Linked DNA regions of Homo sapiens: region 2 is linked to region 1. Evidence: fine-mapped expression QTL. Tissue or cell type: whole blood. Region 1 holds a variant in brackets; the other region holds the start of a gene. All regions are shown on one strand. Distances are from middle to middle.

Region 1 (8,100 bases):
CTGGGCTCAAGCGATTCTCCCACCTTGGTCCCCCAAGTAGCTGGGACTTCAGGCATGTGCCACCATGCCCAGCTAATATTTTTTATTTATTTTTGTAGAGACGGGGTGTCCCTATATTGCTCTGCCTGGTCTTAAATTTCCGGACTCAAGCAATCCTCCTGCCTTGGCCTCCCAAAGTGTTGGGATTATTGTTGGGGCCAGGCGCAGTGGCTCACACTTGTAATCCCAGCACTTTGAGAGGCTGATGTGGGCGGAACACCCCGTCTCTACTAAAAATACAAAACTTAGCTGGGCATTAGCTGGACCTGGGAGGCAGAGGTCGCAGTGAGCCGAGATTGCACCACTGCACTCCAGCCTGGGCTACAGAGTAAGAGACGCCATCTCAAAAAAAAAAAAAAGCTTGTTGGGGCCGGGCGCAGTGGCCCATGCCTGTAATCCCAGCACTTTGGGAGGCTGAGGTGGGCGGATCGCCTGAGGTCAGGAGTTCAAGACCAGACTGGCCAACATGGTGAAATGCCATCTCAACTAAAAATACAAAATTTGCTGGGTGTGGTGGCGTGCATGTGTAATCTCAGCCACTCGGGAGGCTGAGGCAGGAGAATCACTTGAACCCAGGAGGCGAAGGTTGCAGTGAGCCGACATCGTGCCACTGCACTCCAGCCTAGGCAAAAAGAGCGAAACTCTGTCTCAAAAAAAAAAAAAAAATGCTTGTTGGGGCCCAAGTTAATTGATTTCACAACTGCTGCCTTGGCATGAGATTGAGATGCGTCTCTATATCTCTGTCTCTGTCTCTGTGTCTCTGTCTCTGTCTATCTTTGTATCTCACACACAAATGTCCAGGTCTGAGCTCTGGGTCAGAACTGTGGTCCATTCTTTGCAAACTGAGGGTCCCCACTCTCCTGAGCCATTGGCCACTTGCCCACACCACTACCCAAGACCAGTCCCACCTCCGGACACGTCGACTCACTGTACACGGTGATGTTAGAGGAGCCTGTTATCTGAGAGCCATTGCAGTACACTGAGCAGAGGATCCGACTGTTGCCAGTCACGTTGCTGAGATTGAAGGCTGCCCAGCCCATGCCACTGGCCACCAGCTCCTTTGATAGGGACGTCTCCAAGGCGATTTTCTCAGAGCTGGGACAATCAGTACTGCAGTTCACAAACAGGGACCCTCCAGCAGAGAGCACAGGGTTCTGGGGCTCCACCCGCAAAAGGAACTCCTGCCCCTGGACACCTTCAGGAACATGAAGAAGTCCTGGTGTTTGTTTCCTTGTCCCCCAACCCACGCATCAACAGGCCCCACCATTTAACACCTCTCTCCTTGTGCCGAGACAGAAGGGTTCCTGCCTTCATGGTCCAGTGGGAAAGGTAGAATCCATCAGAGACCGGGGAGAACTCAGAAGGAGGCCAGAAGAGGCTCTGATCCAGCATAGGAGGAGGTGAGTCAGGGAAGGCTTCCTGGAAGCGGGGACCATTGCAGCCCGAAACTGAAGGCTAAGTAGGAGTTAGCAAGTGAAAGGGACAGGTGATCCTGGCAGAGGGAAGCACATACGCAAAGGGCAAATTTCAGGAGTTCAGATGGAGCAGGAAGCATGAGGGGTGTGTGTGTGTGTGTTAGGGGAGAGGGATGGCGTACAAGCCTATGCTGGGGCCTGACCACCTGAAGGCTGAACTAAGGAACCAGAACTTTCTCCCGAGGATACAGAGTCAGCGGCCAGGTCGCAGTGTGGCAGGATGTGAACAGCGTTGCGTTCTATTCCTCTACCCTCTACTGATCCCCAAAACGCAGCCCTCTCCAGCCCTCCCCGGCTTGACTGGTCTCACCTGGGGTCAGCAGACAGCAGACCAGCAGAGTCCAGCAGGCCCTGGGCCACAACACGGATGGTACCATGGTGGCCATTCTGACAGAGGAAGGTGCCTTCCTGAGGTGCCCGAAGGGCAGGCAGGGGAAAAGGCGGGGCCTCCCACTGCGACGGAAGCACAGCGGTTAAGATTGCAGAAGTCTGGGGACTGCACCTTGCCCAGGCCTGTGGGTGGAAGGGGATGCTGTGGCCCTTGGGGGCCAGGGTGGGGGACCCAGACGGGGCTCTGCAAAGTGGCCAGCACTGCTGAGTCTCCCCCAGGGAATGGGCTGGTCCCAGTTGCACTGCTGGCCCCCATTTGAATTCACAGGAAATGCTAACTAAACTGGTTTCTTTTGTTCTCAGCACTGGGAAGCCTGGGTGGGGGGGATGAGGCATCTCCTTCTGGCTGAACTTAGGTGGGTAGGGGAATATTCTGTCCCCAGAGAGGAAGTTAATGGGGAAAACTGTAGGCACCATTGTGTAGATGTTAAGGTGGGATTTCGAGGAAACATTAAAAAACAAAAACAAAAACAGAAACAGAAGCAGAGTCTTGCTATGTTGCCCCGACTGGTCTTGAACTCCTGGCCTTAAGATGGCCTCCTCTCATCTTGACCTCCCAAAGTGTTGCGATTACAGGCGTGAGCCACCACGCCTGGCCACCTTTGAAGATCTTGAGGATACCTCCCTATCTTTGAAGATCTTGGGGATCCCCCATCCCCTGCACAAAGAGCTAAGGTAGGTGATTTGGGGACAGCTGAGTCCCTGAGCCACTGTCTATCCAGGATTCTACTTGGTTTTTGTTTGTTTGTTTTGAGACAGAGTCTCACTCTGTCACCCAGGTTGGAGTGCAGTGGCGGGATCTCGGCTCACTGCAGCCTCTGCCTCCCGGGTTCAAACGATTTTCCTGCCTCAGCCTCCCGAGTAGCTGGGATTACAGGCATGTGCCACCACGCCCGGCTAATTTTTGTACTTTTTGGTAGAGACGGGGTTTCACCATGTTGGCCAAGCTGGTCTCAAACTTCTGACCTCAAGTGAGCTGCCCGCCTTGGCCTCCCAAAGTGTTGGGATTACAGGCGTGAGCCACTGCGCCCGGCCTTCCAGGATTCTACTTGTAACTGGCCTTTACCCCATCCTGTTGTCCCCTTGCCCACCCTTCCAGGCAGCTGGTCACTGCATTCCAAGGGAAGGCGCCAAGGGGACCAGGTGGGACCCCCACCTTTGACCTGCCTCTGACCTCAGGCCTCTGACCTGCCTTCTGGGCTTCACATCTGAGCTCCAGAGAGAGAGGCCTTGTTGAGAGCCTTGATGGGGCCCTGCACTCACCCACTTTCCCCAGACCTTGAGGTCACAGCACCTCCTCTCTCATCTAGAGCACCCCCACCTTCCTAAGCAGGTCCCTCCTCTATTCCTCTACCTTCCGAACAATCCATTTCCCACCTGGTGTTGAGAGAGCAGCTAAAACCCAAGTCTAGTGTATTTGTAAACAGCAGGGACCAGTAGCATGGGCCTGGTGCCTGTAGTCCCAGCTCCTTGGAAGGCTGAGGTGAGAGGATCGCTTGAGCCTGGGAGGTCAAAGCTGCAGTGAGTCGAGATTGTGCCCCTGCACTCCAGCCTGGGAGACACAGTGAGACCCTGTTTCCACAAAAAAAAAAAAAAAAAAAAAAGATGTCGGACTTACTGGCTCACGTCTGTAATCCTAGCAGCACTTTGGGAGGCTGAGGTAGGTGGATGACGAGGTCAGGAAATCGAGACCATCCTGGCTAACACAGTGAAACCCCATCTCCACCAAAAATATAAAAAATTAGCTGGGCATTGTGGCGGGCACCTGTAGTCCCAGTTACTCAGGAGGCTGAGGCAGGAGAATCACTTGAACCCAAGAGGCGGAGGTTGCAGTGAGTGGAGATTGTGCCGCTGCACTCCAGCCTGGGTGACAGAGCAAGACTCTGTCTCAGAAAAACAAACAAACAAACAAACATATATATATAATTTATAATACTTACGTAATAGTGAGACCCTGTCTCTAAAAATAAAAAAGAAAGAAATATTTGTAAATAAGTCATATTTCTTTTTTGTTTTTTGAAACAGAGTCTCACCGTGTCGCCTAGGCTGGAGTGCAGGGGCACAATCTCAGCTAACTGCAATCTCAGCCTCCTGGGTTCAAGTGATCCTCCCACCTCAGCCTCCCTAGGAGCTGAGACCACAGGTACACACCACTGTGCCTGGCTAATTTTCTGTAGAGACGGCTTTCACCATATTGCCCAGGTTGGTCTTGAACTCCTAAGCTTAAGGGATCTGCCTGCCTCGACCTCCCAAAGTGCTGGGATTATAGGCGTGCCCTGCTACACCCGCCAGTAATATTTCTGATAAAGAAGTATTTCTGGGCCAGGTGTGGTAGCTCACGCCTGTAATCCTAGCACTTTGGGAGGCTGAGGCGGGCAGATCACGAGGTAAGGAGATCGAGACCATCCTGGTTAACACGGTGAAACCCCATCTCTACTAAAAATACAAAAAAAAATTAGCCCCGTCTCTACTAAAAATACAAAAAAAAATGGTGGCAGGTGCCTGTAGTCCCAGCTACTCGGGAGGCTGAGGCAGGAGAATGGCGTGAACCCAGAAGGCGGAGCTTGCAGTGAGCCGAGATCGCGCCACTGCACTCCATCCAGGCTGGGCAACAGAGTGAGACTCCATCTCAAAAAAAAAAAAAAAGAGTATTTCTGGGCCAGGCGTGGTGGCTCACACCTGTAATCTTAACACTTTGGGAGGCCTAGACAGGCGGATCCCTTGAGGTCGGGAGTTCCAGACCAGCCTGGGCAGCATGCCAAAACCCTGTCTCTACTAAAAATACAAAAAATCGGCCAGGTGCAGTGGCTCACGCCTGTAATCCCAGCACTTTGGGAGGCCGAGGCGGGCGGATCAC[G/A]AGGTCAGGAGATCGAGACCATCCTGGCTAACACGGTGAAACCCCGTCTCTACTAAAAAAAATACAAAAATTAGCTGGGCATGGTGGCGGGCGCCTGTAGTACCAGCTACTTGGGAGGCTGAGGCAGGAGAATAGTGTGAACCCGGGAGGCAGAGCTTGCAGTGAGCTGAGATTGCGCCACTGCACTCCAGCCTGGGCGACAGAGCGAGACTCCATCTCGAAAAAAAAAAAAAAAGTACAAAAAAATCAGCCAAGCTTGATGGCACACACCTGTAGTCCCAGCTACTCAGGAGGCTGCAGCGGGAGGATTGCTTGAGCCCGGGAAGTGGAGGTTGCAGTTAGCTGAGATTGTGCCCCTGCACTCCAGCCTGGGCGACAGAGAAAGGTCACCTACACATGTTTAAGGGGCCTCTGCACATATCTCAAGCCATTGACAAGAAAGCAAGTACAGTCTGGATTGCAAACAATGTATAATTTAAGCTCCAGCTGATTTTTTTTTTTTTTTTGAGACAGGGTCTCAGTCTGTCACCCAGGCTGGAGTGCAGTGGCATAGTCTGGGCTCACTGCAACCTCTGCCTCCCAGGTTCAAGTGATTCTCCCGCCTCAACTTCCCAAGTAGCTGGGATTACAGGCATGCACCACCACACCCAGCTAATTTTTTGCATTTTTAGTAGAGACGGGGTTTCACCATGTTGACCAGGCTAGTCTCAAACTCCTGACCTCAGGTGATCCGCCCGCCTCGGCCTCCCAAAGTGCTAGGATTACAGGCGTGAGCCACCGCGCCTGGCCTCCAGCTGATTTTTGACAGCCACATTGTTGCTATAGGATCCTTTTTACGTGTGATGGTGATGGTCTCTGGTTCTCCTCATTCCCACAAAGGTTGTTGAACCACAGCACCAGTAACACTGAGAATGCTAAGGGCTCTAGCCCAGGCTTTCTCCCAGGTTCTCTGGTGTGCGCCCTCCTGGTGACAATGAAATTGAAGCTAATTGCTTTCACTGGTTGAGTCTCTGATCTTGAGTGGCTGTGTCCACATTTCATTTTTTTTTTTTCTGGTAGGAATAACTACTTTTCTGCATCCATGCTCCATAGACTCTGTCCTTTTCAGACATCCTGGGATAAAAAGATTTGGCTTTTTTTTTTTTCTTCTTCTTCCTGAGACAGGGTCTGGCTCTGTCTCCCAGGCTGGAATGCAGTGACATAATCATGGCTCACTGCAACCTTGACCTCCCAGGCTCAGGTGATCCTCCCACCTCAGCCTCCCTAGTAGCTGGGACTATAGGTGTGTGCCACTACACTCGGCTAATTTTTGTATTTTTTCTACAGAGGAGCTTTTGACATATTGCCCAGGCTGTTCTCGAACCCCTGGGCTCAAGTGATCCTCCCAACTCAACCTCCCAAAGTGCTGGGATTATTACAGGGGTGAGCCACTGTGCTGGGCTTTCACTCTTAGGCTATTAAACAATGAAGGTAGTTATTGATCCTATCTCTTTCATATTCTTCTTCTTTTTTTTTTTTTGAGAATGAGTCTTGCTCTGTCTCCCAGGCTGGGCTCACTGCAATCTCCACCTCCCAGGTTCAAGCGATTCTCCTGCCTCAGCCTCCTGAGTAGCTGGGATCACAGGCGTGCGCCACCACACCCAGCTAATTTTTGTATTTTTATTAGAGACGGGGGTTTCACCATGTTGGTCAGGCTGGCATATTCTTCTTTCTAAGAACTGAGAGTGAGGGGGCTGTATTGAATCTCTTCATGCACCAGGAACTGAGTTCTGAAGATGATCTTATTATTATCAGTATTTTTTGAGATGGGTTCTCACTCTGTTGCCCAGGCTGGAGTGAGGTGGTTCAGTCTTGGCTCACTGCAACCTCTGCCTTCCAGGTCCAAGCGATTCTCCTGCCTCAGCCTCCCAAGTAGCTGGGATTACAGGCGTCTGCCACCAGGCTTGAGCTACCACGCCCAGCCAAAAGAGCATATATTATGTATAGAAATAATAAGACGAGCCAGGTGCGGTGGCTCATGCCTATAATCCCAGGACTTTGGGAGGCTGAAGCGGATGGATCACCTGAGGTCAGGAGTTCGAGACCAGCCTGACTAACATGAGGAAACCCAGTCTCTACTAAAAATACAAAAAATTAGCCAGACATGGTGGCTCGTGCCTGTAATCCCAGCTACTCAGGAGGCTGAGGCCGGAGAATCACTTGAACCTTGGAGGAGTTTGCAGTGAGCCGAGGTCACACCATTGCACTCCAGCTTGGGCAACAAGAGAGAAACAACGTCTCAAAAACAAACAAACAAACAAACAAAACCCAAGAAATAATAAGACCATTTGGAATTACTGGACTAATAGAATAGTTAAGGTTTCTTATAGAGGCAATAAAATGTATTTTGAAAGAGCTGCTAACTATTGATGCTGACAGTATTTCATTCCTGTGAGTGACTCAAGCATATTATAAATAGCTAGTAAAAGCCTGGCCAACATGGCAACTAAAAATACAAAAAATTCACCGGACGTGGTGGCGCATGCCTGTACTTACAGCTACTTGGAAGACTGAGGCCCAAGAACCGACTGAGCCCTGGAGGCCGAGGTTGCAGTGAGCCGAGATCATGCCACTGCACTCCAGCCAGGATGACAGAGGAGAGAGACTCCGTCGCAAAAATAAAAATAAATAAATAAATAAATACCTCGTAAAGGGAACGGAGCCTGTGGGGTTGAGCAAAATGTACTAGCTGTGCCTGCAGTGAGTATAACAGCTTTACGATTATGAGGAAACAATTTTTTCTTTTCTTTTTTTTTTTTTGAGATTAAGTCTTGCTCTGTCGCCCAGGCTGGAGTGCGGTGGCACGATCTCGGCTCACTACAACCTCCACCTCCCAGGTTCAAGTGATTCTCCTGCCTCAGCCACCCAAGTAGCTGAGATAACAGGCGCCCGCCACCACACCCAGCTAATTTTTGTATTTTTAGTAGAGACAGGGGTTTCACCATGTTGGCCAGGCTGGTCTTTAACTCCTGACCTCAGGTGATTCACCCACCTTGGCCTCCCAAAGAGTTGGGATTACAGGCATGAGCTACTGCGCCCGGCCCCAGCCAAAATTTTTAATAGCAATGCAGAAAAAGAAGAAAACATGACAGGCGCAGTGGCTCATGACTGTAATTCCAGCACTTTGGGAGGCTGAGGCGAGCAGATCACCTGAGGTTAGGAGTTCGAGACCAGCCTGGCCAACATGGCGAAACCCCATCTCTACTAAAAATACAAAAATTAGCCAGGCGTACTGGCCCCACGCCTGTAATCCCAGCTACTCAGGAGGCTGAGGCAGGAGAATCACTTGGACCCAGGAGG
Region 2 (8,081 bases), 38 kb after region 1:
AAAAAAAAAAAAAAATCTAGCCGGGCATGGTGGCACACACCTGTAGTCCCAGCTACTCGGGAGGCTGAGGCCGGAGAATCGCTTGAACCCGGGAGGCGGAGGTTGCAGTTAGCTGAGATTGCGCCATTGCACTTCAGCCTGGGACAGAGCGAGACTCCATCTCAAAAAAAAGAAAAAAAGAAAGACTGTAGTAGATATATTTGGAAGTGCAATTTCCTGTGCAGGAGGAGGGAAAGCCTTTCTTTCTTTTTTTTTTTTTTTTTTCTTTGAGATGGAGTTTCGCTCTTGTTGCCCAGGCTGGAGTACAATGGCACGATCTCAGCTCACTGCAGCCTCCACCTCCCAAGTTCAAGCAATTCTCCTGCCTCAGCCTCCTGAGTAGCTAGGATTGCAGGCACCTGCCACCATGCCTGGCTACATTTTGTATTTTTAGTAGAGATGCGGTTTCACTACATTGGCCAGGCTGGTCTTGAACTCCTGATCTCAGGTGATCTGCCCGCCTCAGCCTCTGAAAGTGTTGGGATTACAGGCATGAGCCACCGCACCTGGCCTTTTTTTATTTTTGAAACGGAGTCTAGCTCTGTCACCCAGCCTGGAGTGCAGTGCTGTGATCTCGGCTCACTGCAACCTCCATGTCCCAGGTTCAAGCTATTCTCCTGCCTCAGCCTTCTGAGTAGCTGGGATTGCAGGCACCTGCCACCATGCCTGGCTACATTTTGTATTTTTAGTAGAGATGCGGTTTCACTACATTGGCCAGGCTGGTCTTGAACTCCTGATCTCAGGTGATCTGCCCGCCTCAGCCTCTGAAAGTGTTGGGATTACAGGCATGAGCCACCGCACCTGGCCTTTTTTTATTTTTGAAACGGAGTCTAGCTCTGTCACCCAGCCTGGAGTGCAGTGCTGTGATCTCGGCTCACTGCAACCTCCATGTCCCAGGTTCAAGCTATTCTCCTGCCTCAGCCTCCTGAGTAGCTGGAATTACAGGTGCGCACCCCACGCCCGGCTAGTTTTTGTATTTTTAGTAGAGCTGGAGTTTTGCCATGTTGGCCAGGCTGCTCTCAAACTTCTGACCTCAAGTGATCCACCAGCCTCAGCCTCCCAAAGTGCTGGGATTACAGGCATGAGCCACCGCGCCCGGCCTGACTTTCTTTTTTTAATGACACTGGGTCTCACTCTGTCACCCAGGCTGGAGTGCAGTGACGAAACCATACCTCATTGCAGGCTTGAACTCCTGGGCTCAAGCGATCCTCTTGCCTCAGGCTCTCAAGTTGCTGGGACTACAGGCATGTACCACCATGCCTGGCTAATTTCTAAAAATTATTTTGTTGAGACAAGGTCTCCCTATGTTGCCCAGGCTGGTCTCCAACTACTGGCCTCAAGCAATCCTCCTGCCTGGGCCTCCTCAAGTACTGGGATTACAAGTGTCAGCTACTGCACCTGGCCAAGTTTTCTGATTTATTATATTTCTTGCTGTCCTCCCTACTAAAATTTCAGCTCTACAAAGGCAGTGATTTGCAGCTGCCACACAGTAGATGCTTACAAAATGTTCACCGAATGAACGGGTGGATGGATGGATGGATGGATGGATGGATGGATGGATGGATGGATGGATAGATGGATGAATAGGTGGGTGGGTGGGTGGATGGATGGATGGATGGATGGATGGATGGATGGATGGATAGATGGATGAATGGGTGGGAGGATGGATGGGTGGGTGGATGGATGGATGCATGGATAGGTGGGTGAGTGGGTGAGTGGGTGGGTGGATGGATGGATGGATGGATGGGTGGGTGGGTGGATGGATGGGTGGGTGGGTGGATGGATGGATGGATGAATGGATGGATGGGTGGATGGATGGGTGGATGGGTGGGTGGATGGATGGGTGGATGGATGAATGGGTGGGTATGGATGGATCGATGGGTGGATGGATGGATAGATGGATGAATGGGTGGGTGGATGGATGGGTGGATGGGTGGGTGGGTGGATAGGTGGGTGGATGGGTGGGTGAGTAGGTGGATGGATAGGTGGATAGGTGGGTGGATGGATGAGTGGGTGGGTGGATGTATGGATGGATGCGTGGGTGGATGGATGGGTGGGTGGGTGGGTGGATGGATGCGTGGGTGGATGGATGGGTGGGTGGGTGGGTGGATGAATGGGTGGATGGGTGGATGGGTGAAAGGGTGGGTGGATGGGTGAATGGGTGGGTGAATGGGTGGGTGGATGGGTGGATGGGAGGATGGATGGATGCATGGGTGGATGGATGGGTGGGTGGGTGGATGGATGGGTGGTTGGGAGGGTGGATGGGTGGGTGGATGGGTGGATGGATGGATGGATGGATGAGTGGGTGGATGGGTGGGTGGATGGGTGGGTGGGTGGATAGACGGATGGATGGGGCCCAGCTGCTGCTTGCACACCCACCCCAGTCCCCATGGTGCCAACGCCCCAGACTCACCAACTTTATGTGCAATGTGGATGCAGACTTCCTCAGCTGTCAGCGATGACTCACTGAAAGTGACCCAGGGCTCCCCGCCGCCTGGACCAGCCCAGTGCAGAAGCACCTTCAGGCCTCCCATGGCAGCCATGGGCTGGGCTCCATCCCCAACGGGCTTACTGCCCCTGGCCATCCCCCAGTGGCGCAGAGGCATGCTCCCGGCAGGTGGCTCAGCTGGAAAGGGGACAATCTGTCAGCTCCCAAGTCTCAGCCCAGAGACCCCTGTTAGCTCTTCAACCTTCCACCCACCCCAGCTAAGGCCTGAGGGGAAGATTCTGGGCTCCCATCTTGGCATGACATTAGAGACCCGATTCCCTCTCTGAGTCTCGTTTTCCACATTTATTGGACAGGGTTGGGGTATGCATCCCCACCTAGATCTCTCATCAACAATAACACTGAACCCTCCTCTCTTTCCACAAATTGACACAGATATAAAAATCTGCTCTGGCCAGGTACAGTGGCTCACGCCTCTAATCCCAGGACTTTGGGATGTTGAGGCAAGAGGATTGCTTGAGCCCAGGAGCTCGAGACCAGCCTAGGCCATATAGCAAGACCCTGTTTCTACAAGACGTTTTATTTTATATCTTATCTTATCTTATCTTATCTTATCTTATCTTATCTTATCTTATTTTTGAGACAGAGTTTCACTCTTGTTGCCCAGGCTGGAGTGCAATGGTACAATCTTGCTCACCACAACCTCTGCCTCCTGGGTTTAAGTGATTCTCCTGCCTCAGCCTCCTGAGTAGCTGGCGCCTGCCACCACACCGGGCTAATTTTTGTATTTTTAGTAGAGACAGGGTTTTGCCATGTTGGCCAGGCTGGTCTTGAACCTCTGACCTCAGGTGATCCACCCGCCTCGGCCTCCCAAAGTGCTGGGATTACAGGCGTGAGCCACTGTGCCCGGCCTCTACAAGAAATTTTTAAAATTTAGCCAGGCGTGGGGGTGCACATCTGTACTCCAAGCTACTCGGGAGGCTGAAGTGGGAGGATCTCCTGAGCCCAGGAGTTGGAGGCTGCAGTGAGCAGTGATCGCACCACTGCATTCCAGCCTGGGTGACAGAGTGAGACCCTGACTCTAAAAATATAAATAAATAAATAAATAAATAAGTAATAAAAATATATAAAAAGGGCCAGGCGCGGTGGCTCATGACTGTAATCCCAGCACTTTGGGAGGCCAAGGCGGACAGATCACGAGGTCTGGAGATTGAGACCATCTTGACCAACATGGTGAAACCCCATCTCTACTAAAATACAATAAATAAATAAATAAATAAATAAATAAATAAATAAAAAGTAAAATAAAAATCTGCTCTTAACACACCTCCCCAAAATAACCAGACAGGCAGATGTGGTCAAACATACCTGAGGGTGAGTCCTGGAGCTCCCTGTGTCAACTCAAGCAAGCCACTTAGCAATTCTGGGCCTCAGTTTCCCCATCTGGAAAAGGGAGGTCCTCAGGGTGTTGCCATCAAAAGATGGTTGTAATGTTTCAATATAGTTCCGCATATTACACATTCAGCACAGACCCTGATTCAGGCACACACAAAAAGAACAAATATGACCAAAACAAGAATAACATAATTGTTATTAGTTTCATCGTGGTGATGGCCTCTTTCAGGCCACAATTCTCCTCTCCCACATTTACCCCCATGAGTGACCTCAGTCCCTGTTGACTCCCCAAAGCCTAGGAGAGTTTATGTCCAGCTCCATCCCCCCAATCCAGGGCCTGAGCCTCCTGAGGGCGCCAGTATGGAAGTGGAGGGGCTGTCACTTCCACCCATGTTGCTGGTTTCCTCATCTGGAAAATGGGCATGTAACAGTGTCTACCTCAAAAGGCTGCTGGGAGGATTTAACGCGAGGAGGCAGAGAAAGTGCCTGGTATACAGTAAGCGCTTAATTAGCCTTTGCCATTAATACCTATTCATGTTATAGATGAGATCCCGGGGATGGGGCTTTCGCGGAGCCTACTTCCTCCTTCCTCCTTTCTCGTCCCCACTGGACCCAGACCCAGCTTTGAAGACAGGGTCGGAGTGAAGTTTGCAACTGGGAAGGCTGCACGCCCCCATGTCCTCCCCCCAAAACCTCTAAACCCGGCCGGCAACGGCGGGAACTGGGATGTGCACCCACCGGGCATCGGAGCAGTCCCGAGGCACCAGGTGCTCCCATCCAAGTGCAGCCTGTCAAGCGCAGCCAGTCCCCGCGGCTTCTTCCTGAGGACCTCCGGCCGCGCTCCTTCCGCGCCCGCGTCCAGACTCACCCTTCCGGGGGAACACAAGCTCGAACCCGGACCCCTCCCCGCTCCCGCGGGTAGCTACTGCTTGTCCCCCGCCGAGACGCCTCCTCCCATTGGCCGCCTGAAACGCACACGCCCATTGGCAGCTGCTCTGTTCTCCCTGCTCGTCACCATTGGATTTTTTTTTTTTTGCCATGGTGGCGGCACTCTCATTGGTCCTGGGGCTCATTCGTCACTCAGCCGCGATTGGCTGAGTCGGCACCCAGATGCGCTGTCGCTTCTGCTATTGGCTGGCACTCGGTGGACGGAGACGGGGGAGGGGCTTGCGAGAGGCGGGAGGGAGAGCGAAGTGTGTGGGCAACGCGGCCGGATCCTGGAGTTCCCCTCCGTGCTGTGGAATTGGGTCAGGCGTGTACGGTCCTGACCCTAGGACACAGCTGCATGTCCTCACCTCGGTGTTCAAAGCTGCACCGGCCACCATTCAACCCTCCGACGCCCTGCCCTTTGGCTTCCCCGTTCCATCCGGTCCTGTCTCCTTTCCCTCGTTTCTACCTGGCCGACTCCATCCTGCTGACTAGAATTCCCCCTCCTTCACTCCTGGGAGGCATTCCTCGCCCACCTGCCCCAGTCCTCTTCCTGATCACCTGCAGCCCTGTCCTCTGAAGCTCCCTAGCGGTCAGGGTAGCAGCTTGGACATCCCGCCAGACGTGAATTCAAATCCCCACTCCGCAAGTCGTGCCCATTTGCTGAGAAGCCTACAGCCAGAGCGTTTCACATACATTATCTCATTTGATCCTAGCAGCAATTCCCTGTATGGCGGCTCTTATTATCCCCATTTCACAGAGGAAGAAACTCAGGCATGAAGAGGTAACAAAGACCGTCCTCTGACCCTTCTTCTGTGCCACACCATAACCACTCCTCGACTTTGTCTTTCACCTGCCCAGCCAAGTCTTAGCAAAGAAGCCTATTAAGTCATCCGCTCATCCTTGATGTCTGATCAACTTCCTCATCTTCCACTTTTTTTTTTTTTTTTTTTTAAGATGGAGTTTCGCTCTTGTCGCCCAGGCTGGAGTGCAATGCTGCGATCTCGGCTCACTGCAACCTCAGACTCCCGGATTCAAGCGATTCTCCTGCCTCAGCCTCCTGGGTAGCTGGGACAACAGGCGCCCGCCACCACGCCCGGCTAATTTTTGTATTTTTAGTAGAGATGGGATTTCACCATCTTGGCCAGGCTGGTCTCGAACTCCTGACCTCGTGATCCACCCTCCCAAAGCGCTGGGATTACAGGCGTGAGCCACCGCACCCGGCCCTTTTGTTGTTAATTTTTAAATTTTGTGGCTAATTTTTAAATTTTTGTAGAGATGGGGTCTGGCTATGTTGCCCAGGCTGGTCTTGAACTTCTGGCCTCAAGCAATCATCCTGCCTTGGCTTTCCAAAGTGCTGGGATTACAGATGTGAGCTAAGACACCCAGCTCCATGGAGTTGGTCTTAACTGCCATGGCCAAGGGACATGTGGCTGCTTCTCTCTGAGTCAGAAAATATGGGTAAAAAGCCTCCTCACAGGGCAGCTGTGGACATTCAGTATGAAAATGCTGAAAGAGATCGGGAATGGTCTCTTTCACACCTGTAATCCCAGCACTTTGGGAGGTGGAGGCGGGCGGATCACCTGAGGTCAGGAGTTCAAGACCAGACTGGCCAACATGGTGAAACCCTGTCTCTACTAAAAATGCAAAAATTAGCTGGGCATGGTGGTGGGCACCTGTAATCCCAGCTATTCAGGAGGCTGAGGCAGGAGAATCGCTTGAACTTGGGAGGCAGAAGTTGCAGTGAGCCGAGATCACACCATTGCCCTTCAGCCTGGGCAACAAGAGCTAAACTCTGTCTCAAAAAAAAAAAAAGAAAAAGAAAAAGAAAGAAAATGCTGATAGAGGCCGGGCACAGTGGCTCACGCCTGTAATCCCAGCACTTTGGGAGGCCGAGGTGGGCGGATCATGAGGTCAGGAAATCGAGACCATCCTGGCTAAGGCGGTGAAACCCCGTCTCTACTAAAAATACAAACAATTAGCTGGGCGTAGTGGCAGCCTGAGGCAGGAGAATGGCGTGAACCGGGGAGGCGGAGCTTGCAGTGAGCCGAGATTGCGCCACTGCACTCCAGCCTGGGCGCCAGAGTGAGACTCTGTCTCAAAAATAAAATAAAATAAAATAAAATAAAATGCTGATAGAGACTTGTCCTGGCTGGATGCAGTGGCTCATCCCTATAAACCTAGCACTTCAGGGAGCTAAAGAAGGAGTACTGTCTGGGCCCAGTTCAAGACCAACCTGGGCAATATAGCAAGACCCCATCTCTACCCAAAATAAAAAAAATTAGTCTAAGGCTGAAGTATGAGAATCGCTTGAGCCCAGGAGGTGGAGGTTGCAGTGGGCTGAGATCCCACCACTGCACTCCAGCTTGGGCTACAGAGTGAGACTCCATCTCGGGGGGAAAAAAAATTAGTTAGTCCCAGCTACTCCGAAGGCTGAGGTGGGAGGATTGCTTGAGCCCAGGAGGTTGAGGCTACAGTGAGCCGTGATCACACCACTGCACTCCAGCCTGGGCAACTTGACCTCCTGGGCTCTGCTGTATTTTCTTCAGAGTCCTTATTGCAACCTGACATTTCATGGGAAGTTTCTTTCTTTTTTTTTTTTTTTAAAGAGACAGAGTCTTGCTCTGTTGCCCAGGCTGGAGTGCAGTGGCGCAATCTTGGCTCACTGCAACCTCTGCCTCTCAGGTTCAAGCAATTCTCCTGCGTCAGCATCCCCGGTAGCTGGGATTACAGGCGTGCACCACCACGCCTGGCTAATTTTTGTATTTTTAATAGAGACAGGGTTTGGCCAGGTTGGCCATACTGGTCTCGAGCTCCTGACCTCAGGTGATCCACCCGCCTTGGCCTCCCAAAGTGCTGGGATTACAGATGTGAGCCACCGCGCCCAGCTGGGTTTCTCTTCTTTCTTTCTTTCTTTTTTTTTTTTTTTTTTTTTTTTTTGAGACAAGAATCTCGCTCTGTTGCCCAGGCTGGAGTGCAGTGCTGTGATCTCAATTCACTGCAGTCTCAACTTCCCAGATTCACCATTCACAATCTTCCACCTCAGCCTCCTGAGTAGCTGGGACTACAGATGTGCATCACGATGCCTGGGTAACTTTTTTTTTTTTGAGGCGGAGTCTTGCTCTGTTGCTAGGCTGAAGTGCAGTGGCACGATCTCGGCTCACTGTAATCCCTGCCTCCCAGGTTCTAGCGATTCTTCTGCCTCAGCCTCCAGAGAAGCTGGGATTACAGGCGTGTGCCACCACACCCAGCTAATTTTTTTGTATTTTTTAGT

The links. PIP is the estimated chance that this variant, and not a neighbour inherited with it, causes the effect.
Region 2: TYK2 starts here. The variant in region 1 is fine-mapped to the expression of TYK2 in whole blood (INTERVAL, PIP 0.99).

The regions. Positions count from the first base shown.
Region 1 is chr19:10,337,715-10,345,814 of GRCh38, forward strand. ICAM3 (intercellular adhesion molecule 3) reads right to left here and starts at 1,910. Exons shown (of 7, transcript NM_002162.5): 1 at 1,825-1,910; 2 at 968-1,234. The coding sequence starts at 1,900. RefSeq lists enhancers at 516-1,264, 1,550-1,649, 1,870-1,919, 2,013-2,760, 2,761-3,508. The variant G/A (reference allele first, on the strand shown) is at 4,762.
Region 2 is chr19:10,375,762-10,383,842 of GRCh38, forward strand. TYK2 (tyrosine kinase 2) reads right to left here and starts at 4,811. Exons shown (of 25, transcript NM_003331.5): 1 at 4,619-4,811; 2 at 3,854-4,018; 3 at 2,453-2,665. The coding sequence starts at 2,645. RefSeq lists enhancers at 4,709-4,868, 4,777-5,440.